4 linked regions of the Homo sapiens genome follow. The protein of the gene in region 4 interacts with the protein of the main gene of each other region in a pairwise test. Each region holds a gene or a part of one and is shown on either strand. Other genes may lie near its edges.

Region 1 (7,076 bases), on a different chromosome or scaffold from region 4:
TAGCATAACATTCAGAATTAAATGAAATCACATATTTAAAGCACTTAGCACTGTGGCCAAGCAAATAAGGGAAGACAAAATAAATGTAAGTTTTCTTCCCCCATGTGCAAGACTTTGTACTTAGGTGAGGGTCACGATCCGGAAGGCAGACAGACAGACACTCATTACTGCCTGCACAGTGTCATTAACTGTTGTAAGAGAAGTACATTAATGATCACATTCCCTGTATTCCCCTAGAGCTTTCTTCATACCTCATGCTGACCTGGCATATAAAATTGCATTTCCTTTTCTCAAAGACACATACAACAACTCTGCTACTGACGCTGAGGCACAATGACAAAATTTATTTTTGCCAAGGCTCTACGTTTATCAGTGTTGTAGAAAGGATAAGACTTGCATGTGAAATGATTTAGACAAGAAGTTTCTAAAGCTTGGTCTTCTGTAATTAGGCCACAAGAAAAACATACTGAAGCATAATAGAATGGCTCACAACTGTTTTTGCACATATACTTTAATACTTAGGCTTGGGTAAAATCATTTTAAATAACATATTAAAATATGTTTGGGGGGACAACCCAGCAATTGCACAGCCCACTAGAAAATTTTAACATCTAAGTAATATAACTGTTTTAGGGTCTGAAAGTTCTCCTTCAGTTGTTCCACAGCCTCTTTATCAACTAGGCAAATATATTTAAGCTTTTAAATTTCATAATGTTGGTATTTTTTAAAAGGCACGGGAGGTTCACTTAATATTAAATATATAACATTCACTTTCATAACCAAAACCTTTTTGGCAAGTGACTTTCACATAGATTATGAGATTCTCTACATGCCTTAAAATAAATCTGGCAGCTCTTAACTCATATCTAAATTCTCTGGACAACTGTCTTGCTCTCTGTTTTGGGGCCAGGGGCGTAGCAGTGAAGGCCCTAACAGGCTTGCTGACCTAATTGGACAGTTTGTTAAATAGCAGGAAATGTAACAAGGCTTCTCTCTCTCTTGCATGTTAATGTAGTGAACAGTGCTAATAGCCAGAGATTGTGCAATTTAGTCACAATATTTCAAGCCAAAATTCAGTGTTCTTATATTAAAAGATACCGAAGAAAGCTATCCTTGTTCTTTGAATTATAAAAGCACAGAGGTTGCAATGATCAGAACCAAACTGGTTAAAAGCCGAAATGCATCCTTTCAGTATTGATTTGACAGATGCCAACAAGCATTCAAAAATTTAGAGTTAATTTCTTGGTGACAGGTAGCATAAAATTGATCAGACTGGTTTCAGCTGTATCATAAGCTTCACAAATTGGAGATCTTGTCCTTCCTGGCTGTTTTTTTTTTTTTCCCACACCTTAATTCTAGCACCTGTTGTCAGACCACTGTTCAGCACCAAAAGAACTCCTCAGCCTGGAGTTCTTTGGAGTTTTAAGTGATTGCCTAACTCAGCAGGGGACAGTGGTCTTGACTTCTTGGTTGACGGTTTAAAAACATAAAAGAATTTTATATTTTAAAACTGACAAACTAGAAAATGTTAGAAACTCTATCTGAAGGCAGAAAGTATAAAGTTGGTGGGTACCTGATAAAACATGATGTATGTAAATACAGTTCAAAACAATTTAAAAGTATAAATATTTGTCAATTATTTTTCCTCCAGTGCTCTGGCTATTGCTGAAAACACCTTCTAGTTCCACCTTGTAACTGGACTCCCAAAAGATGAATGCTGACATCTTCTGATGCTTAACAAGAAATAAAAATAGTCACCTTAATCATCAAAAAGGTAATTGCAAAGGGCACTGTTGCCTGAAATTCTCTAGTCACCTGAAAACTGAAATAACTGAGGCAAGACTTCTTAAAATGCTTAGTTTCAAACTTAAACAGAATGGCCTGATAATGATCAAACATGTACAGAGAAATACATGAAATCAGAATTGTGAATGCAGAGAAATAACTGTTTTGCTAGTTTAAAAGTCTGAAGCTTTTCCCTCCTCCCCAGCTGTTAATGTAGGAGACACACAGCCTAACCAGGACAGTCTCAATGCCCAGGAATGGTTGTGTGATGACTGATAAAGCAGAAATTTCTTGCCTATTAATAGTTTCCCACTGTTAGAAGGCTACAGCCGTTGGCAATCAGATGTGGGCTCAGGTTTTCCTTATCCTGGGGCAGGAATGCCTGGAGGGACCACGATGTGGGTCACACTGTACATTCTGTTTACTGTGGGCACAAACACAGAACTTTTTTTTTTTAGCTTATTAAATCGAGAATATTCCTGAGGAGGCATCCGCTATGGGCTAAAGGTCCCAACATCACAATAATAAATAACAGCTATGTTTACAGAGACACATTCAGGACACATGCAAAAGCTTTTCCTAGCAGGAGGACTTGGGCCTTTGCAAAACAAGCTGCTTGGGCCTCCCCAGAGGGCCCACCCTCCCATGCACCTACCCCACCACCCTGCCCCAACTCATTACACAACTCGGCCTTCTGGCCACCTGAGGCTACTTTTTAGACCAAGTGACTCAGACGTTTCAAGTAGAAGACAGGATGGGCCACTGCCAGGGGACCTTGCAGCAGAAAATTAGGTCAGAGGACTTGGAGGGTGGTGAAGAACAACCAGATAGATGTGAGAGCCCAGCAGGGAAATGACAGGAGGCGCAGCTTAGGTGTGGAGGCTCCAGGTGGCCGGTCCCCGCGCGGCTCAGATGAAGTGGATCCAGCTCTCTTCGCACTCCCCGCGAGGCATGTGCAGCGCGTGGTTGCGACATGTGAGGCTGTAGTCTCGGTGGTCGTTGTTGTCCCAGTACTCGGCACCCGCCACTTGGTAGCGCACCGCGAAGTGCACGCGGGAGCCGAGCTCCAGCAGGAAGGGCGGTACTGGAAAGCCGAAGGTGAAAACGTCCTCCGTGCCCTCGGGGCCTGCGGGCCCGCGCCACCGCGCCACCGCCTCGTGGGTACTGCGCCAGCCCGAGAAAGTGTAGCGCACAGCCACCTGCTTCTCGAAGGCCACGTTGCACACGCGCACCGTACCGCTGATGCCAAGGTCCGAGCAAGTGACACGCTCCAGGCACACGAGCTGCCGCTGCAGGCGCTCGCCAAAGTCGGCGGCCTCGACGGGCGGCGGGAAATCGGGCACCAGGCAATGCAGGGTGAACTCCAGGTCCTGGCTGCTGCAGCACAGGTCCGAGTTGATTGCGAGCCGCGACAGCACGTGCAGCGGCACGGACGGGTCGTCTCCCGCGTTGAACACCTTGACCTGTGCCAGCTCCAAGCCCAGGGCGTCGGCGAAGCGCACGCGGAGCTTCTGGCTGCAGCCCGGCCGACACGCAGCGCCCGGCGCGCCCGCGGCCTTCTGGCGGCGCTCGGGGGAGCTGGGCAGTGAGCGCGCCCGCCGCAGGATGATGGGCCGCAGGCGGGGGTCGCAGCCCGACGGCGCTGGCGTTGGCGGCGGCGCGCGGCCCGGGCTCCCAGGGGGCCTACAGGCCCGCGGCTCCAGGGCCACGCCGCCGTCCAGGTCCGACAGGCAGCTGAGGCTCCGGGGGCCGAGCTTCCGGGATCCCAGGGCGCTAGGCAGGACCGCGGAGCTCGGGCCTCTGGACATGGCCCCGCCGGCCGTCGGAAGATGAGGCAGGGATGAGAGACGACCTCCCGACCCCGCGACAGCTCCCTCCGTGCTCAGAAGCCGCAGAGAGTCCACCGTATCTGCAACCTGCGGGGGACCTCTCGGGCCCGGTGCGCCCTACCCTTGGTTCGCCACCTTGCTCCTCGAGTCCTTGTCCAGGTCCTCCGCTTCTTGCGGTTAAAGAAATTGTAAGAGTGGGGAGTTTTTCTCTAGTGGAAGCTTTCAGAGGCCTCCCGGGAGCGCAGGGTAGCGCCTCTTTTTTCTTCTTGCTTCCTTGGAGGTTCTTACAAGAAGGCTGCGTTCCGGGAGCGGCCCCTCCCACTTTCCCGGTCCGCGGCGTTACTTACAAGGCTGCAACTTGACCGGGTGCAACTTCCTAGCGAGCCTCCGCCCCGCCCCTCGTGACGCCGCCTGCAGGCGGGCCCCCGCCGGCCTCAGCTCAGCCAGGGAGCTCAGCGGAGCTGCGCGCCTCCGCCTCCAGCTCCCCTGCCGCAGCGCGCCGCAGCCGGGCGTCCCCGCGCGGGCGCCGGAGAGGAAGGAAGGCTGGCAGCCTCGTCACGTGTCCGCTGCAGTCGCGAAACAGGTCTGATCAATTTCTGTTTACGTCTGCCTGGATTGCGCGCCTATCGATCATAGACTTTGTCTGCACAAACGGAGGACAAGGAAAATGCATGCTGCGTGTCCTTAGATTTCTGGGTTGTGGATGGGGGGAGCGGTGGTGCAAAAACCGGCCTTGCCAGGAGCTGGTCTCAGGCTAATTTTAAACATCGAGGCCAGCCCACACTTTGGACAGGTTCACTGCAACCTGGACCCTTGGTCAGACCGAGGGAGCCTCACTGCGTAGAGGAGCAGCGTCATGTCCACATCACCCAGAATGCTTTGCCGCACCGAATGGCCAGCAGATTCCCTTGAGGGTGGGGAGGGGAGGTGCTGCTGTTGTCTTCCTGGACTCCGCGCCAGAGAGGAAGACAGGGGAACAAGAGTTATTACCCGCTGATGACTTCTGCAGCTGCCCTTAATCAGCCTCTGGCGCTTGGGGAGCATATTTGTAGCCAGAATCTCCGACTTTTAGCTTTGTTTCCAAGCAAGCCAGAAACACCAGCAAGGCCTGGAGCTTGTTTTCTGCCTATTTAGAACCCTGCAGGCATTCGTGTCTCTCACCCGGTAGCTTTGAGCACAAAACCCCACAGCCTTTGGTGTAAAGCATACCAGGTGAAATGAAGTAGAAAAGATGCAAGTGCACTTTCCAGAGAGCAGTTTGGGGCCAGCCATTCCATTAAGAAGGTTCCTTTTTATTGTCCAGAGGGACAAAGCAGAAAGAAAACCAGACTAATGAAAGGGGGTTGATTCAAGAACATTCGTTGCATCTAAAATGAGTCAAGGCTGTTGATTGTGGTATAATTCATGAAATGTGAGAGAATGATTTTATTTATCATTGGATGTAAGCTAACTAAAAAGGCTTACATGATTAATGTGGGAAAAATACAGGAAAGTTTCAGGAAGAAAATAAAAATCTTCTATAATCATCTCTTTTATTTTACAGAGACAGGTGATACGGGAAAGAGAAGTATCCAATTTCCATTCAGTGCACTTTTAATAGGCCACTCAAAATGAGAGGGGAATAACAGCAATATGTGGTATAGGTCAACAATGCTTCATAAAGAGATGATATATAATATGTAATATGTATGAATATATGGAAAGTCTTATAATGGATTGATGTGATAGAGAAGGCCGAAAAATTGAATGGGAACGTTCCTCCTAGAGTTTAAGCTCCTTCTGAACAGGGACGTGCATAATCATTGCCATTTTTCTGGGTACTCCTGTAATTATTTGTTGCATGAATGAATGATTGGGCAATGCAATGATTGAACGCTGTAATAAGACCTGACCTTATTTAGCCTTCCAGATTTCTTCAACATATTATTTCCAAGGAAGATTATACCTGTGTGTGAACAGGGAGAGAGAGAGAGAGATGGAATCCATTCACAGTATTTATAGTAGTGTGATCCTGTGATCCTGTCTCTAATATCTACTGTAATAAGCAGAAAAGACAAAGCTGTAAGCATAAGACAATGTCTCCCTTCCCCAGTATTTCATAACCTAGAGTGCAAACCACTATATGATCACAGCCTTAATATTTCAATATTATACAAGTATTAAAAAACAAGTGAAAAACCAACCCGATACTGGTGGTAGGACCATTTGCAATCAATAGTTACTGACAGTATTCTGTTGCTTCTAGTTCCGGTGGTGAGGAGACCTTTCCAAATATAAGAGGAATAAAGAAGTCACCTCCCCAGCTGTCATCATCTTCCAGCAGATTGAGCAAGAATATTTTGAGCACTACAGGAAAGGTAATGTAAACTTAGAAGAAAAATCTGACTTAGATTTATTCTGGGATTTTTGTTTGTTTGCTTGCTTGTTTCTTGTGTACATGTTCACAGTGTTTATTACTGCATCCCTGTTTTTAGACAGTCCATCAAACCCGAGATGATGATCAGCCACGTGATTTTTTCAAGAAGAGGAATAGGGTGAATGAATCTCATCAGAAAAGCAGGTAAATAGTTTTAGTATAATTGCTTTATCTTGCAAAAGACTCATTATCTCTGTTGTCCAGATTGAATATGTGGAGTGGGGAAAAAAGTATGTCTATAGATAAGAAATATACATTTATAATTTTTTTCTAGCAGAAATGAATAGAAAAGTGGTTTAAGCATAATAGTGGATAAGGATTCCAACGGTCATAATTCTGGCAGTTGTTAGCAGAATTATAATTTTGAGTAAGTCCTTTAATCACTTTTCTATGTTAGTTTCCTTTTATATAAAAGGATAGTGACAATAATTAATTTTTATGGATGCATACTGACAGGCAGGAACAAAATGTTTTAACAGTGTTATGAATTCTGAATAATGGAGATTCCTTCATTTCTTCATTTATTCAACATTTATTGAGCACACGTTGTACTATTGGCAATGATTTAATGTCCTGCATATTTATTAATTAAAATGTAGCACGTATTCAAATAGTTGCTTAGGTTGTTTGAAACCACTGGGCAAATGAACCTCTGAAGTTTCCAGAAAGCATGTTTACCACCCATTTCTATTCATTCTATCTGACTTATATTACAGAGAAGTATTATTAATCTTAAATGCCACGTTCTTGGTAAATAAATTGAAAAGAGGATATTTTCAACTCTGATGTGAGATTCAGCATCAGAATAAATTATGCCAGAGAGAATTAGTTTCTATACTCATAATGCACACAGTATTCATTATTCCCTTTACCTGCTATTCACAAGGTAACACTAAGACCCTGTGTTTTCATTCATATGTGTTACAGGGCACCATATGATTTTATTTCTGTTCTTTAAACACAATTTTCCCAAATGTGTTTTCTGTTTGAAAACATTGTAACAAGCTTTTGATTTAAGGTACAGGTTTGTATGTGCAATACTTTTA
Region 2 (7,529 bases), on a different chromosome or scaffold from region 4:
GGAGGGTGTATGTCCAGCAGTCCTCTCTGCCACCAAGCACAAACAGCTACTACTTCTGCCCCTCTCGTGAGAAGAGCTACCATTCCCAGAGCTGGAAAACTCATGGCTTAGTCACCAGGGCCAGGCTGGCTCAATCCAGCCCAGGCCTCCCTAGCACCAGCCGCTGCCATCATGCCAGTGAGCCAGTCAGCAGGATTGAGTACACAGAGGTGACTTAAGGCCAGGGAGGAATTACTTTCCACTCTCACCACATCTTACAAGGAGGAAAAAAATCAAACCAACCTAAGACTGGGGAAGTGGGGAGGATGGGAACAGAATGGCTCTTTGAGGACTTACCTATATAGACTTAGGTGTCACCAAGGTCAAGAACCTAGGAGTAGCTCAGACTAGCAAAATTTGAAGTTAAATCTGCAAGGAGCAGTTGATATAAGGGACAAGTAAGACCCAGAGGATGAGGGGAGGGGTGTTAAATCAGAGAAAAAGGAAGTGACCCCACCCAAAAAACTACAGAGATCAGGCAATAGCTTGAGGGGTTTTCCACTCCCCCCTATAATTTTCACAAGCCATCCCGTAACACACAATCTAATTTTTATAAGTGCTTGCTTTGCAAATTCAGCTTCAAGATAAATCTCCCTCCCCCTGCGCCACAACCCCATATAGAAATCTTGAATTGTCTCTGGGGCAAGATAAGGAGAGGAAAATGCCCCAGACCAAGGTAAGAGCTACAGTTATCAGTCTTTAATAACTTACAGGCAAATGCTAAAAAATAGTTAATAACAATAATACAGAGGACACACACAGCTTATAAAAAGGGTCATGGATCTACAAATGTGGGGAGGGGTTCTTGGCACTTTCACAGACACAAAAATAAAAACTATGTGACTGGTATTCCTAGAAAAGCAGCCTGGGGAGACTCCCCAGTTGGGGGACAGAGGAAGGGGAGATAGTTATTTCATCCCAAACACATTCTCCAAGTCACTTCCATCCCCCCGCCCCCAAACACATCCAATTAAAAATTTTTAGCCAGAGAAGAAAAATAAGAAACAGGGTCGAGGTAGAGTCACAGTTTACATTTACGTCTCCACAGTCCTGCAGCGCCCACTTCTCCAGAGAGGATGAGAGAGATATGCAAAGACATCCCATCTCCCATCCCCACCCCAGTGTGGCACCAAAACGGGACACCCCATGCTCCTCTCTCCTTCATTGAGGTGGACAGGTCCTGCACCCCAGTCTGACTGAGAGGTCACAGGCTGGTCCCACCCTGCTGTCCAAGTGTGCAGACCCCTACTAGGTGGGAGGAAAGGGAGGGGGGGCTTGGGTCACCGTCTCTTCTTGCCACCCCGAGCTGCCTTCTTCCTCTTGAGGATCATCTCATAGAGGCGCTCAAGGCCCTGCTGCAGGCCCAGACCGTCCACAGCGCTGCAGCCTTGCACATGAGTGAGAGTGGCGGCTGCTAGCTCTCGGACTGCCAGCCTCTTCTCCACCTCAGCAGCGCTCAGTGCCCCGGGCTGGTCCTGCTTGTTGGCCAGCACCAGCACTGGCACGCCCTGGTTGTCCGAGGCCCGGCTGATTCGGTGCAACTCCACCTTGGCTTCCTCCAGCCGCTCAGCCTCCGCAGCGTCCACCACAAACACTAGACCGTCTGTCCGGCGGGTATAAGAGCGCCACAGTGGTCGCAGCTTCTCCTGCCCCCCGACGTCCCACACTTGGAAGGTGATGCCACGCGATCCCCCGAGGGGCACCCGGATCTTCTCGGTGTTGAAGCCTTTGGTGGGGACACTCTGGACAAACTCCTTGAACTTGAGGCGGTAAAGGAGGGAGGTCTTTCCAGCAGAGTCCAGCCCAATGACCACGACATGCAGGGCTTGGAAGTGGGGCAAGAAGGAGGAGGCAGTGGGCGCCATCTCAGTCAAGTGGTTCCCCATAGTGAGCTAAGGCGCCTAGTAGAGGCAGGGAGGCCTTGAAATTGAAGGTTCCAGGGAGCACAGCTGGGTTATCTGAACCAAGAAAAGGTCATGGGAGAAAAAGGAGACGTTTAATAATACACACAAGATTTGCAACTTCTTGATCCCTTCCTAAATCACCCTCCCATCCTTCATTTTTAAAATTCCTTTCCTTTTTTTTTTTTTTTTTAAGGCATAACAGAGGTGTTCCCCCACTCCCTGGGGGGGTCGTGAGGGGGGCGATGGGACCTAGAGAGACTCCCAGGTCCTGGGCCACTCAAGTGGGGGGTGAGGGCTCGATCCATGGACAGTGGGCTTCTAGAGCCTCTTCTCAGAGCTTATGGCGCCATCCCCCAGGCAAGATCCCCGAGGGACGGGGGAAGTCGACAGTGCCCCCAAACTAAGAGCTAGGGTGCAGACGCTGAGACCGGAGATTGAGTCCGGCTCCCACCCGCCCTCCGCAGCCCCAAGCCGTTGACACGGTGCCCTTCCTTACTCCGCGACCCTCGCCCCACCGCCCCGCGACACTCTCCTGCCCGCCCGCCCTCCTCCGATGGCCGACCCCAGCTCCAGCGGCCCGGCACCGGGACCGCCTCAGCACGGTCTGCAGGGTCCGTTTACCTCTCGTGAGCCGCGCTCTCCTCGAGCCTTTCCCGGTGAAACACCGCAGCCGCCCCGCGAGACCCCCGCAGACACCCACCGCGCCTCCAACCGCTGCCTCTGCAGAGCCTGCCTAGGGTTCGGCCTTAAAAACCCGCGTGTGACGTCACAAGGCGCGGGACAATCAGCGGCGGCGGGGCGGAGCGTGGAGCTACGGGCGCTGCAGCCCCCACCATACGCGGAGGGGCGTTTGCTTAATCCGTGGCTGCTCTATTTGACCTTTTCTACCACACTCTAATATTTGGAATTAAACTTGGAATTAATGCAGAATGGAGGGTGGGAGGGGCGAAAGGAACGTGCCTGGCAACGTTTGACTCGGGAGGAAAGATATGAATACCCTAATATTCTCACTACCATCGCATCCCCCTCCACCAGGCCGAGATACCACCCCACATGGACACTCCTTCGGCCAAAGGATCTACTCGGAGAGGCTGACAAGTCTTTCTCCTTTATCTTTCATAATTCAATTGTCAAACCTAAGGTGAACCTGGAGCCCCATAAAACAGCTGCTTCATAGTGCTAAGCCCATTATCTGCAATAGCCTGTTAGGGACTGTTGTCTGCCTTTTACAGATACACAAAGCCCTGAAGGGTTAAATGACCTATTTGAGGTTACACTCAACAGTATGTTTAGGCGCAGTGGATCATACCTGTAAACTCAGCACTTTGGGAGGCTGAGGCAGGCACATCACTTAAGCTCAGGAGTTCCACCAGCCTGGACAACAGGGTGAAACCCCATCAGTAATAAAAAGACAAAAATTAGCCGGGCGTGGTGGCGGGTGCCTGTAATCCCAGCTACTCGGGAGGCTGAGGCAGGAGAATCGCTTGAACCCGGGAGGCGGAGGTTGCAGTAAGCTGAGATAGCGCCACTGCATTCCAGCCTGGGCGACAGAGCAAGACTCTGTCTCAAAACAAAGCAAACAAAAAAAAAAAACCAGTGTGTTTATTGGGCTGGGCACGGTAGCTCACGCCTGTAATACCAGCATTTTGGGAGGCCGATGTGGGCGAAGCACCTGAGGTCAGGAGTTCGAGACCAGCCTGGCCAACATGGTGAAACCCCGTCTCTACTAAAAATACAAAAATTAGCTGGGTGTGGTGGCGGGCGCCTGTAATTGCAACTATTCGGGAGGCTGAGGCAGGAGAATCACTTGAACCCGGGAGGCGGAGGTTGCAGTGAGCTGAGATCACACCATTGCACTCCAGCCTGGGCAACAGAGCAAGACTCTGTCTCAAAAAAAACAAAAACAAAACAAAACAAAACAAAAAACACTGTGTTTATTGACCTCATTCATACTGTGTGCTCTGAATGAGACAGAGAGATGGTGGAGAAATAGAGGATGTCTCGGCTGTAGAATCAGGCCTCAAAGGGCTTAAGACTTAAGACTGGCAATGACAGAATGAGACAGCACATGTATTGGGTCTTTGTAAATCATGAGATAGCACTTGTAGGATTTCAGAGAAGAGAGAGAATGTGTCAACTGGAAGCTTCTGAAAAGGTTTATAGACGTTCTTTAGCCCTATCTAGGACTGGTTAGGAGGGGCACAGGAATGAGTAGGGTCTCCCCAGCCACTGCAGCCTGCTACAGTCTGGGCAGCCCTGAAAGGAAGGAGATGTCACAAAGGGCAGTGTGACCAAAAGGACAACAGCAATTAGGTGGGGGAGAGAAGAGGGCCAATCAAAGAAGAATGAAATTGTAAATTGTAACTTTATCTATTTATTTATTTATTTATTTATTTATTTATTTTTGAGACAGAGTTTTGCTCTTGTTACCCAGGCTGGTGTCCAATGGTGCGATCTCGGCTCACTGCAACCTCCACCTCCCAGGTTCAAGCAATTCTCCTGCCTCAGCCTCCCGAGTAGCTGGGATTATAGGCATGTGCCACCACGCCCGGCTAATTTTGTACTTTTAGTACAGACAGGATTTCTCCATGTTGGTCAGGCTGGTCTCGAACTCCCGATCTCAGGTGATCCGCCCGCCTCGACCTCCCAAAGTGTTGGGATTTACAGGCGTGGATTATTTTATTTATTGTGTAATTCAGTATTAATCTTTTTAAGGGCTATGTGTGAGAGGGATTGGAAAAAGGAGAAGGGAAGTCATTGCCAGACAGCACGGCCCAGCCTTTTCCTGCCCACCCTCCTCAATCAAGTGCTGATAAATAAGCTTCCCATCTGTTTGTCACCAGTGTGCTTTGCCACCTCCTTTTTCTCCCCTCCACTACAAAACCAGCCACCTGGTTTCCCCAGCAATGCAGGGAGCCTCCCCAAATCCCTAAAGACCTTAGGAAATTAGTCTAAGATTAAGACCTTAGGAAATTAGTTTGTTACACCCCAAGTTGGAGGGTGACAGGTTGCAGCAGCAGCTAACGTACAGGAGACAGACCTGAGCATGGTGAAGTTAGGAGAGGGGAAGACGGAGCAGGCCCAGCGGTTGAGAACCACTGCACTGTTGAGTGGCCACTGCATGCCAGGCTCTGGTCTAGGAACTTTGCTTACTTTTCCTTTTTTAATACACAAGTCAAGCCCATGAAGTAAGTATGGTTAGTCTAAAAAGAAGAAACTGAAGCACAGAAAGGTTAGGTAATTTGTTGAAGGTCATCCAGCTAGAAACTGGCCAAACCTGGCTTTGAACAAATGTTACAATGGCTATGAGACTGAAAACACACAAAAACTGAAAATACACAAGTTGTCTTGTTTCTTCCACAATCTTTGAAGCTTCTTTAACATGGCTCCTATAATCTGTCTTGGGACTCACATCCAAGACAGAAATTGTCACTTATCTGATAAAGGAAATGAAACTGACAATCCTACCCCACCCTTCCGTCTTTCATGTTTGCCAGAGAAGGTGTTAATGAACAAATGGGAAGGAGAAGGTGGGGCTGGGGAGGGGTAAAAAAAGGGGCCCAGCTCGTCCAGGTAGCACTAAGCTATGGGCTTACACTAATCCCTGCAGAGAACATCTGAACATTTGTACATTAAGCAATCATTTTTTTTTGAACGATACAGAAATTAGCATGGCCCCGTGCAAGGATGACTTGCAAATTCATGAAGCATTCCCTATTTTTTCAAAATTAAAATAAAAATAATTTTTTTTTTTTTTGAGACGGAGTCTCGCTGTTTTGCCCAGGGCGGACTGCAGTGGCGCTATCTCGGCTCACTGCAAGCTCCACTTCCCGGGTTCATGCCATTCTCCTGCCTCAGCCTCCCGAGTAGCTGGAACTACAGGTGCCCGCCACCGCGCCCAGCTAATTTTTAGTATTTTTAGTAGAGACGGAGTTTCACCGTGTTAGCCAAGATGGTCTCAATCTCCTGACCTCGTGATCCGCCCGCCTCGGCCTCCCAAAGTGCCGGGATTACAGGCATGAGCCACCGCGCCCGGCCTTTTTTTTTTTTTTTTAAAGACAAGGTCTCACTCTGTCACCCAGGCTGGAGTGCAGTGGCGAGACCATAGCTTACTGCAGCCTTGAACTCTTCGGTTCAAGAGATCCTCCGCCTCAGACTCCTGAGTAGCTGGGATTACAGGTGCGTGCCACCACATGTGGCTGGAGAACTACTTTAGATTGGTGGAAGAGTGTGCAGGAGAAAGTTTCAAAGCGGCGACGCTGAGCCAAGGTTTAAGTGACACTGAGTCAGATAAGCATCATTCTTCCTCAGAGCTGTCTCCTCCACCAGACTACGTGATCAAGGGCAGCAGCTGGTTCTTATCTGTAGCTCTACCATGCCCAGCACCATGCCTGGCACACATAGGCAGTCAGAAAATCTTGTGTGAATTAATGAATGCATGATGGAATAAATGTACTCAGAGGGCTCCCTGAGTAGGAGAACCAAACCTCCACCCTTAGCGTGGGAGTTTCCCAGCCTGGGGTCCTTGGGCCCTTGGGCCCTTGGGGGTTCTGTTGATACTGGGTTGGCCAGGAATTCCTACAAACCCTGCATTTCTAGGCAGTGTCTGAGTAGTATAGAACTCTCAGGCCTTTATTGGAGAGGAGGAACTTAAAGGAGAAAAACAAGGACCAAAAATGGGGATGACACTGGAGAGACAGGTTGCCCTTAGGACATGCTGGAACACCAGACTGAGATTCAGTGCGTGAGTCCCATCCTTCCATTCCTCACTAGTAGAGTGACTTGAAAAAGTAAAAAGCCACTTCCGGCCGGGCCCAGTGGCTCGCGCCTATAATGCCAACACTTTGGGTGGCTGAGGCGGATGGATCACCTGAAGTTAGGAGTTCAAGACCAGCCTGGCCAACATGTTGAAACCTCGTCTCTACTAAAAATACAAAAAAATTAGCAGGGCGTGGTGGCGCACGCCTGTAGTCCCAGCTACTCCGGAGGCTGAAGCAGGAGAATAGCTGGAACCGGGAAGGCGGAGGTTGCAGTGAGCCGAATTGCGCCACTGCACTCCAGCCTGGGCGACAGAGCGAGACTCCGTCTCAAAAAAAAGTAACTTCCCCACCTGGGAGCCTCGGTTTCCTCATCCTGTAATGAGGGGCTTTAGATGTCTCCAGGTCGTTTCCCCATAACAGCCCATGCTCTGAAGTAAGGGAGGGTAGGAGGATGGGTGGAGCTCTTCTAGGAAGTGGCTGAGAACATCCTTGTCTCTGCAGCATCTTAACCAAGTACTTGTCTTCGTGAACAAACGAGGGAAAGAGGAGTCTGCAGGAGTAGGGGGTGGGGTGGGGGAATGGACGCCACGGAGCAGTTACCAGCTCGGCAATCACGAAGGCCCATTTTTCAAATCCCAGTTCTGTTTCCTCATGAACAAAATTGAGAAAACCCAACCTATCGCTAAGTATGAGTGTGGGGCAAAAATGTGCGAAAGGGCCCCAAAGATACCCTTCTCCCCAACCAGGAACTCTTTCCCTGGCAACCACCCCAAAATCAAGGCCTAGGGTGGAGCCAGGGGCTAGAAATAAGTAGATGCTGCCCCCT
Region 3 (7,029 bases), on a different chromosome or scaffold from region 4:
AGTTGAAACTAAGAAGGTATTCTGAGAAACTTCCAGGATATACACTATTACAATAGCCAAATCATCTATTACTAAATCATTTCGGTCAACTGAGGAAATATATTACAGTTTGATTTTGTTATATGAAGTTGTTTTCATTGAGAGTCATGGGACCAATAAGATTTTAAAAGAAGCAGAGTTAACATAATGAAATGTCATGGATTCAAAAGCTTAATTTTGTTTTCATTTAACTTCTCCTAACATGAAAAGTGAAAGCATAATTCTATTTAACAGTGCATGAAAATCAGGATGCATAAAAACCAAACATCCTTGACTACATCCTGCCTTCCGTTTTCCACAGTTCTCCAGCTGGGACTAAGAAAGGGAAGCAGGAGAAAAAGATACTTCCCGTGACTCTTACTACAACCTAGATGCTATGGCAGTAGTTACAGGAAACTGAGCAGTGACAGGATTTTTTTTCCTCCTCCCTCCAAGGCCAAGAGATCAACTTTTCACTTGGGGATGAAAACTTACTCAAGAGTAGAGTCCACTGTAGGGCTGGATTCATAGCAGTACCAGAAAAGATAAATGCACTTCTTAATTATAACTATTGAAACTTAATTGTAACTATTATGCTTTTAATTATGATGAAGCAACAAGCTACATATAGTCAAGAAAAAAAGTCACGTCAGTTTTAAGATCTATAAATACGTTTAAATTTGTCCTAAAAACCCTCTGGCCTAAGGGTAGTCTAAGGGCTACTGTCTCTATTATCACAGAATCTTACTGGCTACCATGTAACTAGAGTCACTAAATTACATTATATATATGTATGTTATATATACGTTATATATATATATGTGTATGTGTGTGTGTGTATATATATATATATATAAAACGTATATATATACTACTTAACCTAATAGCAGGACCCCAGAAAGCAAAATATATATTTCCCCACCTCCTCCCCTTCCCCGCTAGGGAGAGGGGAAAAAAAAAAATCAAACATATTTCCAAATAAGTTACTGAAATCATGTGGTCAAACATTTAAATAAAAATATACATAAGATGGTCCAAGGTACAACTGGAACTGTCAAGCAGGATTAACTCAAAGGATAATGTCTTATGAACTGTATGACAACATATATAACAGTTTTCAGTTAAGAGCTGGCTTGCCGGCAAATACCTTAATTAAAGATCTCATACAACTTCATCGTTTTCTCCCTTTTTAAGATGTGAAAAATAAAACAAGGAACCACAGCACTACTTAGTACCTAGGGACACAGTAAAAGTTCCTAGCAGGAAAAATGTCTCCCCGTTCTTGTGTCAATAAACAGATGGCACAATTTTGGAATTACAGAAATTAATGTAGCATATCTCCCAACACTTAAGTGAGAAAATACAATATCTCTGAAGTCTTTCTTGTAATTACAATCCTTCATTCACAAATTACTGTCTTATTACAACTTATTATAACAATAACATATATTACTCCTCTCAAAAAAAGCATTATCTATCCAAAAGCTGACTGATATGCAAAATATAGTAACAATAACAAATGTAAATTTCCATTTGTTATTAAAACTGTGGCATTCAAATTGTAAGCCACAAAAACTGCTGAATCTTACGCAGAAAAAGGATACCATTTTCACTTATGGAGAAGTTCCCTATTGTGGATTACAGTCTTCTCAATTATTACACTTTTGTTACTCAATGTGAAACACAAGCACACACACAAAAAAGGGGTCTTTCTTTCCTTTTTCTTATCCGTTTTCATTTCTTTCACACAAGGAGATGCTTTATACGTGTCATTGTTTTGTAGCCTAATTAGAGTTTTCCTATTCTATTATCTCAAACTTTTATCACAGCTTCTTACAACGGACTTCACGAAATTAAATTTTAAGGTTTAGATACTGTAAACGCTCGAGGAAAGACATTAGTATTCTCACTATTACATATTAAGGATTCTCTAGCTTGCAGTTAGGTGATTTTATAATACATGTAAATGCATATAATACACTTAAGGTGCATTATATACATGAAACGAAGTGTTCGTTTTATTTTATAAACTTTTTTTATTTTATAATACACGTAAATGCCTCGAGTGTATTATTATGTATTACATGAAATAAAGTGTTCACTTGAATTTTGCCTCCCTTCAGTCTATCTCTCTTCAGTCGAAAGAGATAAGTAGGCCTTTATTGTCCAAAAAAAAAAAAATTGTCCCAGCCTTTTCAAATGTCAGGTTAAACTGGCAGTCCTATGAATGCCACCTGCAACCTTACTAATGGAATAATTACTCAAAACGAGAAGCCCCCAAGAGTCCCGATCTCAAGTGGCTTCCTCCTATTATTCCCGCGAGGACCCCAGCGACAAGACTCGCCCAACCTGAGGCTCCTGGCTCTCTTTCCTCGTCCTGAGTCAGCCCTTCCCACTACTCATCCGGAGTAGACATCTTCCAACACCCGAACCTTCCAGACTTTCCCTCTTGCCCCCACAAACAAAAGCAACCCTCCTCCCTTGGGACACCCGGCTTCCCCTCTCTGCCGACCGGCCGCCCAGCCCACCTCGGCCCCAAGCACCCCTCCCCCATTTCACGCTCCGCCCGCGCTGACACGGAGCTGCCACCCCAACCCTTCTGTTTCGCACCTCTCTCCCGAGGGCTCCTCCTGGGCAGCCAGCAAACGCCCGCTCCTCGGCCCGCCCACCCAGCTGCCTGCAAACCCCGGGCCTGCCACTCCCTGTAGAGCCGCCGGGGCCCACCTCGAAGAGCTCGGCCGTGGTAGCCATCCCGGCCGGCTGAGAGGCTCGCCCCCCACTGGATGCCGTCTCCGCTTCACATGCTGCGCCTCAGAGGCGCGGCGCACAGGTCTCCGCTCGGCTCGCCAGCTCCGGCTCCGGGCCGCTGCGGGCTCCCCAGCTCCCCACAGATCCCAGGAGGGGCGGGAGAGCGGCCATGAAGCGAAGCCGCAAACGCTTGTCAGCTGCCTCCCGGCGCCGCCCGCGCTGCTCCCATTGTCACCGCCTCATACGCCGGAAGTGGAACTGCGCGCGCCAGGGAGGTTGTCGGGAGGGGCCGGCGAATAAAACGAGCGGCGAAAGAACCGAAAAAAGGCTCGACGCTACCGTGTATGAGGAACTTTGATCCTTGCGGGCCACCATTCCGGAAGTAGAATTTAGAGGAAGAAAATACCGGAGTTGCAGGGTATAGGTAAATTTCTCAAGGTTATAGGTTGGGGTTCTTAGAACTTTTTGTGGTGTGTGTTGGCCTAGAGCGACTCAGAAGCGTTAGTGACTTCACCTAAAAAAGCTAACCTCTCTGCTGAGCGCGACCGGTATGCGGCGCAGGATGAGCCTCAGGGCTTCTGTTAAGAGTCTGTCTGAGAAAGCCGGTCTGCGCTGTTCCTCGGTGGCGACCTTAATTATGAGATGAGCTAATGCTTTACTGACTTAACCATGGCGCAGCGGGCAGTGTGGCTCATAAGCCACGAACCGGGAACTCCACTTTGTGGCACCGTGAGATTCTCCAGGTAAATGCAAATCTGAATCCTCAGGGATGATGGATCAGAAGATCGATGAAGTAGCATAGTTTTGTGGTGCTTCGTGGCCCAGGTTTGCCACGAATAGCTGCGTGACCTTGGGCTAGCCAGTTAACAGACCTCTGTTTCGTCTGTTAAATGGAGATTTTAATAGTCCTACCTTACAGTGTTGTGAGAATTGAGTTGATGACTGGTACATATTATTTACGGTATATGTTTTCTATTAGTATTGTGTTTTAAAATGACCTCCGTCTGCTTAGAATTAAAATGGAGATGACTAAGGGAACGGTAGAAAATTTACTGAGCACTAAACATTTTCAGATTTTTCAACATGCATTGACAAAATCGTTCCAGAACATTTTAACTTATTCTACTGAAAAATCCATGCTAAGTTATATCAGACTTTTATTTTTTTGTTTTTATTTTTTTGAGACGGAGTCTCGCTCTGTTCCCCAGGCTAGAGTGCAGTGGTGCGATCTCCGCTCACTGCAAGCTCCGCCTCCCGGGTTCATGCCGTTCTCCTGCCTCAGCCTCCCGAGTAGCTGGGACTACAGGCACCCGCCACCACGCCCGGCTAATTTTTTGTATTTTTGGTAGAGAGGGGGTTTCACCGTGTTAGCCAGGATAGTCTTGATCTCCTGACCTCGTGATCCGCCCGCCTTGGCTCTCAAAGTGCTGGGATTACAGGCAGGAGCCACCGCGCCCCGCCCAGGCTTTTATTTTTATCTTGTTAATATGTGTCAATGGTAGAAATCATCAGTTTACAGTTCCTAATTGTTGAAGAAAATAGAAACACAAAAAAATGTATTCACTATTTCATATATTGTGTTAAGTTGATCTGGTCCCACTATTAGAATTTGCCCTGTGTAATCAAAATAGCTCTGTTAAGGGAATTGTACAGTAACTCATTGTAAAATGTTGGTGGCAATCGAGTGGGTCTATTTCACCTTTTATTCTCTGGCCATTGATAGTTCTTTTTTGTCACAATTCGTTCTTCCCTGAAGAAAGCTTATAGTGAAGTAGTACCATAGTAGAATTGAGATTGAGGCAGAAAAAAAAGATTTTAATTTTAAATGAAAATTGGTTGGCAATGGGGATATGAAAAATTCCTTCTTTGCAACCTTAACAGTTTTTGTTCCTGAGGGCATCAGAGTTGGAGTTTACCATTTCCCCCCAGGATTTCTGGCTGACACTAACCCCAACATTTGTTGTTGGACCTCAAATACAGGAGATTAATAATATTCTTTAGTACGTGGTTTTACCAGGCGCATCAGTCCGTACAAAGTATCTCTCATTTTACTTATATTCCCTTTGGTTACCTATTTCTAACTGCCGTTCCCTTCCCACTGACAGATAACTCTTAACATCTTCGATGTTACTCTTTTTCATTGTATGCATTTTTCAAATTACATAATTAAGTGTGCTTTAGACTTCACTTCCTAATGTTACATTTGTCACATTTCTCAACACTATTTTAAAGAAACATCCATGATACTTTGTGTTCATCTAAGGCAGCATGTCCAATAGAATTCTCTATGATGATGGAAAGGAGAAATGTTCTTAATCTGTACTGGCTAATACTGTAGCCACTAGCCACAAGTACCTATTGAGCTTTTGAGCTGCAGCTAGCATAACTGAGGAACTCAATTGTTAATTTTGGGTAATGTTAATTGATTTTTATTTAAGTTTAAATAGCCACATGTGGGTAGTTCTACTATGTTGGACAGTGCAAATCTAGGCCATTGTTTCTTCTTGCTCTGTAGTACTCATGGTTCACATCCTACACATTTACCTGTCCCCTTTACCTAGTGATGACCTCTCCCAAATTTGCCTCCAAAGAACACTGCCAAAGTATGCATCCTCAAATCTGTCCATGGGGCATGTCTATGCCGATTTTGACTAAAGACTGCCAAATAATCTGCTCCACAGAATGCTTTCAGCCACCTACGCACTCACTAGCAGCAAGAAGGGGTTCCCGTATCTCCATTCTTTCCTAACATGTAATTTTTGCCAATAAAGAACATCTTATTTTCGTTTGCATTTCTGTATGTAGCAATGATTGTTAGTCCTTTAAGTTTCCTCTACTGTGAATTGCCTGTACATGTCTTGTCCTTTTTTTCTTTGAAAGTTGCTTATTTTTTCCTCTGAATTTGTAGGAGTTTGTTTTGTATTCTTGGTATTAGTCCTATGTCATTTTTAGATAGTACAGATATTTTCTTTAATTTACCATTGTCAATTAACTTTATGTTGCCCTTGGTTAAACAGAAATCACTAATTTTGATGCAATCAAACTAGTTAATTGCTTTTGGGAATTTGTTGAAGTTTTTTCTCACCCATATTTCCCAAAAATATCTTCCTACATTGTCTTCTCTTTATAATTTCATCTGCTACATTTAGGTCTTTAACCCATATGTAGTCCATCTTTGGATATGATGTTAAGTAGGAATCCCATTTCGGTTTTCTCTGTAGTGTGGGTCAGTTTTTCTGACATCATCTTTTAAGCAGTATGTCATGTCTTCATTAATTTGTGAGGCTACTGGTAGTGTTAGTTATGTCCCCTCATATAAATGTTGGTCTGTCTCAGTTCTAGTACTTTGTCTTTCTTGTACCAATACAATATCTGTTGCTTTGTAGCTTATCTTAATATTTCATAGAGGTGAACTTTTTACTGCTTAAGTAAATAAGTTTCTTAAATCCTAGTTTTCAGAATGTTTTTTCACTGTGTTCAGGATATTATTTCAGAATAAAAAGTCAGATATGTTTGGATGGGCTTTTCAATACATTTATGGAGGTAGCAAGTTGTGTTCAAATAATTTAATTCTGTATCATTGAATGACTTAGTTAAATTTTATTATATTTTCAGTTTTCTAACCTCTTGGGGGAGGTGTTAGAGCTACACAGATAGGCACTGACACTTTATAAGTGTCAATAAGTGGCCAATATTTAAGATTTAAGAAGGCAAATGATGTTTTCTCTATCTAAGTACTTATTTCCTATAACAAAACTTGGTTAAGATTCTGGTTTAAAGGTTTGCTTTCCAGATAATAATAGCATCAGCTTACATCTGGCTTAGGTCGGTATCATACCCCATAGTTGTAGGCCCATTTAAGCCTTGAATCCTGTTTTAGAAAAAGCATATAATAAATTAGAAATGATAGGTTGAGTCATCCAACAAAATATTTATTGAACACATATTGGGGTGTTGTGTAAGTTCCCAGATTAACTTATCTTCACAGTCAATTGTGAAATTTTTATACTTAAGAACTTTAATTACCCTCTGGAAAACTAGATAATAAGAGATTGGACTAGAGTTTAGTCCAGAGATCTCTACTATTCATATACAGAGATTTAGAGAAATAAATGGCATTTACCTGCTATGCCATGCCATTACTGGTGTGCTACCTGATTCTTCCCCTTTCTTAATCAAGAAAATGCATCAGAATGTAGGTGATATTTACCTACACATGGGTAACTGCTTTTGGGTTTTTTGTTTGTTTGTTTGCTTGCTTGC
Region 4 (7,026 bases):
GGGAAAGTTACATCTATAATATGAAACTTATAGATGAGTTTGTAATCTTGAGAAGGAAAAGACGTGGAATCTTAAGAAAAAAAAGTTAGCTTTTGATTCGAAGATTAGTTGCTCAAATCCTAGTGAAACGTTCATCCCTGCTCATATTTTCTCCATGTTAGCCAAAATAAATTAGTAATTTATTCAGACATAGAGGCCACCAACTCTGCAATCATCTTTTTTTTTAAGTGTTTATATTTCTGGTTTTCATCCTTTGACATAGGAGAAGGTAGCAATAAAGAAAATAAAAAATTTAACTAGAAAGTAGAATCCTTAACACAACTGCTGATTGATCTGGGATCCGTTTTCATTTGTTTCCTTTCATTTTTGCATAGTTGTTTGTCTTAGTAAAGACAAGTAAAGGAATTGGATTAAAAATGTCAAAATAACAGGAAGTGAATACTCAGTGTTTGTATTTCTCAAAAGATCTGTCTTTCCAGTCCCTAAAACAGAAAATGGACGCCATGTGCAAGGAAAGCTGCAAAGAGTGGAAGACCAGATTAAACTCTTACATTTCTCAAAGCTTGCTTGGTTTTTATTTTGCCTCCCAATCATGTAATTATTGTCTTCAACTCTTTCCCAAGTAATTCCTGTAACGTCATATCTTAATTCTTCCTCAAAAACTCTATTTTTTCCTTGTTTTTCTTAAATATCTCATGATTTCCCAGATCTATACATTGCATTTAATTTATAAAAAAAGAGAAAAAGTACTAAGAATTGTGTGGACTCCTAAATTGAGTTTTATCATTTTTATCATTGCCTGATTTTCACACCTGTTAAATTTTCTTAAATTAGTAAATTTTCTTAAATTATAGCAAGCAGAGAATATATTGGTCCCAGTTGTTTCTAGAGGCCACCATCTTTAACATACTTCTCAGTATCAAAATAACATAAGTATGTAAATATGATAACATGAGAGCTATAGTAGAACCCAGAGAACACTGGTTCAGAAAATGTGAGGTAAATTCTCTTCCTTGATAAGGTCGTTCAAACTCATATGTGTTCCCCCTTTCAACAAGGAGATAAATACAATGCCTGAAATGTATTCTATGGTTGCTATGAAGATATTTTTGAACCGTTTATATTCTGGAGTATTAAACCTGTGCTGTCTTAAATGGTAGTCACCTATCAGATGTAGTTAGGGAACGCTTGAAATGAGGGTCGCCTGAATTGTGATGTTCGGTGAGTACTAATTAAACACAGCATGAAACGTAAAAATGTAAACTATCTCATTAATAACTTCATACTAATTACATTTTGAAGTGATATTTTTGAAAGATTGGATTAAATCAAAAATATTATTAAAATTAATTTCACATGTTCATTTTTTAACTTTTTAAATGTAGCTACTTTAAATTGCAAATGTTGCTTGAATTATATTTCTATTGGACAAAATAGCTGTAGAGCATCCAATAGACTTTAAGAGCTTCTCTTTTTCCACAGAGAATTTTACAGAAATAGAAAACTGCATTCTGATTTTTTTCAAACATGTTCAGAATGTTTTGGCAATATTGCTGTCTCTAACACCTAGAGGTTTCCTAAATACAGGAAATTAAGATAATTACTAATAATATTACTTGCAAATATATGCTTGAAAAACATATTCTACTGATAATAAAAATGCATACCAAAGTAGCCTGCTATTCAAAGGTAAGTGAATGTGACATTCTCATTCTCTTCCACATGGCCACATAATACAGAAGAGGTGATGTTGCAATAATCATACAAAAATAAAATGAATATCATTTTAAAAATTGGATATGTTTGCTGAGCATTCTTATCTAAGCTTTGAGACATCCCATTAAAATATATTTAAAGCTGTTTAGACAACATGGGAAAAAATAATTATTAATTTTAAAAATGTATGTCATTGTTAAAACAGCAGTTGTAAATAAAAACCTAAAAATAATATTAATTCATGTGTTCTTAACATTATTAATACATATAATTTTATTTTTATCCAAAATTTTGGCAAAATGATAAACACATAAAAAAATTATGGGCTTGTAATCTGCTGTATTTGAAGGCTTCTTTGTCTTGCTTTGATCACTGGCTGAAGATTGCTCTTTAATACAGTCTGTAGGACTGATCAAAATGTTACATAAGCAGAGAGAAAAGTAAATGAGATCACTGACAACACTGTAGAGTCTTGGCATGGGAATGGGTATTAACATTTATATAATGAAACCAATTATGTTAATAGGTTAGGAGAAGTTGAATATGTTTTCAGGGACAAGAAAAATTTTCATGTCCAAAGTATTTCATATATAGTGTCGTTACAACATCCTCACCTCTCAGTTCCTATTAATTCCAATAATATGACCTCACCCACTCACTGGCTGGTTATGCACCTAGATCCCATTACCATACTAGCATTTCTTTCCATATCAATGATAAGCACCTCTCTGATTACCCTTTACTATTGTCCCCATAACTCTCTTTTTTGACCTAGCTATGGCCTCCTGTCAATGGACTGTATTGTTTTTTCTCTCTTCCTCATCGGCTTCACATCCACTCTCTCCTCCCTATTCTGTGCTCCAGTTTTAACAAATTGCTCTGAGCAAGCTTGGCATTCTCTTGACCCTACTTGCTTAGAAACTCTAATGTCAGTGAATCACAGCTGTCTTCCTGCTCCATGTCTGCACCTACACTCTTGATCAGGCTTTGAGAAAACACACCCATTGCTATCTGGTCTCACTTCAGTTTCTTGACTCTGAACCTCATATGGGCTTTAATGTAGCCAAGCCAACTCTACCATAGGGAAATTAATATTTTTCCCTGATTAAATCACAAACATTCTACTGAATAATCCCATACATTAGCTATCTTCAAAATTTTCATATCTTATTCAGCTCTGCCTTATCTGTTGAGATTGCGGGGGTTTTTCTATTTCACTTACAAAAGATATGTAATTATAAGACAACTGCCATCCACTGGTTCCATCATATCTATGTGTCTAATGGATACCCATATGTTATTCTGTCTGTTTTTATAGAGAATTACTCCACGTTCTTAACACCAAACTTCCCATTTGTATGCTCTATCTAATTTCCTCTAATCCGCTCCAGGACATGGCCTCCTCAAATATACTCCTCTCCTGTTTAACTAGTTTGTACCTCTCTCTAGATTAGATTATTCCCATTAGCAAATGCACATGCTATAATACCCTCAACATAAAAAAAAAAAAAAAGATTTTGATCCCAACCCAGCAGCCATTCCATATCTTTGGCATTTTCTAAAATAAAAATTATTTTAAAGACACTTTCATTTATCTCATTTTCTCTTGAAGTCGCAGTATCATTTTCAACTCTAGTTTGCCACAAAAACAGGAAATCAGTGACTTCTACATTGCAAATCTAATGGTCAATTCCAGGCCTGAAATTCCTGTTTTACTTGGCCAACCAGAAGCCCTGTATGTGATTGTCCATTTCATCATTCCCTTTCTTGGCTTCTGAGGGCATCCTCTCTCATGGTTCTCCTCCTACTCCCTGGTAGCTGCCCCACATTCTGTCTCAGCTTCACACCTCTGACTGCAAGCGCTCCAACACTGAGACTTCAGGCTGGGGTAATTGCTCTGGGTGAAGGCATCCAGGCCTTTGACTTCAAATTCATTAATTTTCTGAAATTTCCTAACAGACATATCTCTGGCCTGAGATGTTCCTTTATCTCTGGGATCTCACGTGTCCAGCTGCCCACTTAACATCACTAAGGATATCTAATCAGCATCTCAGATTTCACATGTTCAAAAACAAACACTTGAACTCCCCTCACATCTACACCTGCTCCTCCACAGTGTTCCCTGTGTCAATAAATGCACATTTCACTCTTCTAGGTTTACAGACCAAACTTAGGGGTTACCCTTGATTCCTTTGTCTCTTCATTGCACATCATTGTTGGAAACTCCATCAGTTCTGGCAGGAAAATATGAAATACAGCCTATGCAGAATTACAAAAACTCCATCTCTAATATCTCCTTCAAACCACCCTGTCTCTTGCCTGGAATACTGTATGGTATCTGGCCTCCCCACTTCTACCTTTTCCCTACTCCAGTATGTTCTCCACAGCACAGCCGAGTGGATGCTTTGAACACTCAACTTATGTTACAATATTTCTAGGATCCCAACATTCAAATGACTTCCCATCAAACTCAGAATAAAGTGGTTGTAGTTTATGATGTTGTCATGATCTAAACATAAACCATCCCTGAACTCTTCATCAGGACCCATGATTTCCCGACCTGAGGCTCCTACAGTTGGGGTATGAAGAGCCCTTTTAAAAGTAAAATAATATTAGGTTGGTGACCATGTAATTGTGATTTTTCCCATTGAAAGTAATGGCAAAAAATGCAATTACTTTTGCACCACCCTAATATCTTGAAGCTTAAGCTGGATTTACTTCCTCTTAAAGTAGCTTCTGCCTGTGCCTCCCTGCCTCGCTCATTCCCAGCAGCTGCCGGCCATCTGGCCATTCCTTGAAGGGACATTCTTCTGACTTAAGACTTTAGCACATGTGATTTCCTTTATACTTCTCTTCTGCCAAGATTCCTCGTGGTTAAGTATCTTACATCCTTCACCCTAACAGAAGGGACATTCCCTGGTTATTTCAAGAGTGTGTAAATATTCTATTCCCTTTTAGCCTGAATGTTCTTTTTTTCTTCCAGTACTTATCATGACTTAATATATATTTATATACTATGTATGGATTCTACTGCTTTACCAGCTAGACTATATGCTTAATGTAAAGAAAGGGGTTTTACTTTTTATTCACATCTCTATTTCCATTGCTAGAACAGTGTCTGAGACATGGTAGACATTTATTACTAAATGGACAAATCTAAAACAGAGTGACTTAGAACTATTCCTTTTCTTCCAAAAGGCAAGCATTACAAGTTCCACTAAATAAGTCAGTCTTCTCTAAAGAAGGTGGCTTTTAGATATTAAACGCTTATAGGCTTTTAAAATTAATAAAGAAACAGTTTTAAGTGAGGTTAACCCCAATCACACCACTTTAATTGCTATCAGCAACTTCATTCTTCCAAGTACTTAAATAATTCACAAATACACCTATGATGATTATCTGTATATACAAAAGATGAAGATTTACATTTATTTGGCCAGAAATACTTTTGAAACAGCGTGGAAAGTGGATAGGATATTTGGGAGAACAAAGCCATGTATCCCTTTCAGAGATAAGAGGACCAAGGGGTTTCAAAAGAATCAGCAGATGGGAGGTGGAGTTTGTCTTCTGCACTATTTCTACTTCTGATATCGTTTTGGATAAAGATCTATGCTTCTCGAATATGTCATTTATATTAATTCAGATAAACATCCTGCTCAATAATATGGAAGAAACTTATAGCCACAGAGGAAACAATGACGGCCAACCATAGACAATGAATGGACCATGTGAGGTCCAGGACCAGAGCTTTGCATTCAGTACCTATGCTTAGGCCCCAGCCTTCTGTGAGAAGCCTGTATCTGAGATAGCCCTCCTAGTTCTAATCCATGAATACTGGAATTTCTCCCATTAATCTACATTATCAGGTCAAATTTATTTAGTCCTGATACCAAAAACATAAAATATAAAAACATATCAAAAACATAAAAGCCAGCAAGTAAATTCATATAGCATTAACACCTTTAGAGGGCACTTGTAGCACGACATAATTGCAACATCCATGTTTTTAATCCATGCAATCATAAATTCTATAACTTAAGTTTCATTATTACAAAAAGAATGAAGAAGCCTGGGCAGTATCAAAAATAGGATGGCAGGGACTCTACGTAGTTGCTTTGACCCAACTCATTCCTACCATTGACAATACCTGTAAAGTGATTTCCAAACAAAGATAGAACAAAGCTCACCTGAACCCTCAGACAATCCCTGAGATTATTCTAGCTCCAAATTAGGAACAGGTTATAACCAGAACCTTCTAGAATTATATGAAACACCAATGGATTATGGCACTTCCACATCTTTCTCTTTTTTCCTGTGCTACCAAATGTTATAATCCCACTGAGCACCTTATAATTTTCATGTTTTATTGTGAAATACATTTTCTTCTCATCCAGAGAAGAAACGCTTGTTCAAAACCCTTCATGTCAAAAGAAGATAGAAAATTCATGAATATAGGCTGACTAATAAGACTATTTGATCTTTTGCAGAGGTCATAAATGTAATCTTTCACCTAATGCCTTCACAATCCTAAATTCACTAAGGGAGGAAAGGAAAGATTGTATGAAAGACTCTCAAAACTATTTCCAAATGAAAATGAGTCTAAAGTTGCTACAGGTTTTTCTTCATGCAACTATTGCCTCTTTACCTGTGTTATATTTCCAAACGTTTACTGCAGCTTAGAAACATATGCTCCCGAGTCAGTGACTAAAAATCTCACTTTTATTTTTGGAAACTTTAATTCTACAAATTTGAAACAGACACTATGATAAGATATATTTATAAATTCTTCAGTGAGCATATGTTTTTTTTCTCAATATTAAGGACACCTTTTTCTTTAGCTACTAAAAAAATCCTTCTATCAAAATTTTAACATCAAATATTTTAATATATTTATGACACACAACAGCAATTCTTTTAGGAAATATCATTAAATATAAATCAACTTGGATAATATTTAAGTATATAATAATGTTAACAGTCCTTTGCAAAGCTATGACTACAATTAAATGGCCTTGAGCACAACCTCCAATACAATATCTAGTTTTCCATTTTACAATCAAGGTCTCAAGCTCACAATCTCCATTGAGCATCTACAATTAGTCAGGGCACTGAGGATGGAGCACTAGTTATACAAAATGTCTTCTATAGAATATATTCTTAGAATGCAACCTAAACCTGTACAAAAATAAAATCTCAAGGTCAGTGACCAAATCTTTGCATTTCAACTATCCTCATCTGTTTTCGTGTACGGCAAAAAGATACTCCTTCAGTAAAGCCTACTTAATGATAGTATGATTCTAAACTAGTAGG

What was found.
Region 1: the proteins of CCDC102B (region 4) and FAM217B interact in binary tests that used the Homo sapiens proteins (3 or more experiments, as listed by UniProt).
Region 2: the proteins of CCDC102B (region 4) and ARL4D interact in binary tests that used the Homo sapiens proteins (3 or more experiments, as listed by UniProt).
Region 3: the proteins of CCDC102B (region 4) and EXOC5 interact in binary tests that used the Homo sapiens proteins (3 or more experiments, as listed by UniProt).

Annotation. Positions count from the first base shown.
Region 1 is NC_000020.11:59,936,339-59,943,414, forward strand, and holds the start of FAM217B (protein FAM217B), read left to right. Parts: upstream 1-4,050; 5' UTR 4,051-4,197; intron 4,198-5,859; 5' UTR 5,860-5,971; intron 5,972-6,088; 5' UTR 6,089-6,174; intron 6,175-7,076. Other genes in the region: PPP1R3D (protein phosphatase 1 regulatory subunit 3D), read right to left, coding at 2,694-3,593.
Region 2 is NC_000017.11:43,394,129-43,401,657, reverse strand, and holds ARL4D (ADP-ribosylation factor-like protein 4D), read right to left. Parts: upstream 2,666-7,529; 5' UTR 2,565-2,665; intron 2,563-2,564; exon of another isoform or gene 2,506-2,562; intron 1,998-2,505; 5' UTR 1,926-1,997; coding exon 1,320-1,925; 3' UTR 521-1,319; downstream 1-520. UniProt on the Homo sapiens protein: Small GTP-binding protein which cycles between an inactive GDP-bound and an active GTP-bound form, and the rate of cycling is regulated by guanine nucleotide exchange factors (GEF) and GTPase-activating proteins (GAP).
Region 3 is NC_000014.9:57,265,880-57,272,908, forward strand, and holds the start of EXOC5 (exocyst complex component 5), read right to left. Parts: upstream 3,027-7,029; 5' UTR 2,770-3,026; coding exon 2,743-2,769; coding exon of another isoform or gene 2,629-2,742; intron 2,488-2,628; exon of another isoform or gene 2,368-2,487; intron 1-2,367. Other genes in the region: AP5M1 (AP-5 complex subunit mu-1), read left to right, coding at 3,436-3,509. UniProt on the Homo sapiens protein: Component of the exocyst complex involved in the docking of exocytic vesicles with fusion sites on the plasma membrane.
Region 4 is NC_000018.10:68,801,068-68,808,093, reverse strand, and holds part of CCDC102B (coiled-coil domain-containing protein 102B), read right to left. Parts: intron 1-7,026. UniProt on the Homo sapiens protein: During interphase, forms fibers at the proximal ends of centrioles to maintain centrosome cohesion. During mitosis, dissociates from the centrosome following phosphorylation to allow centrosome separation. Contributes to CROCC/rootletin filament formation.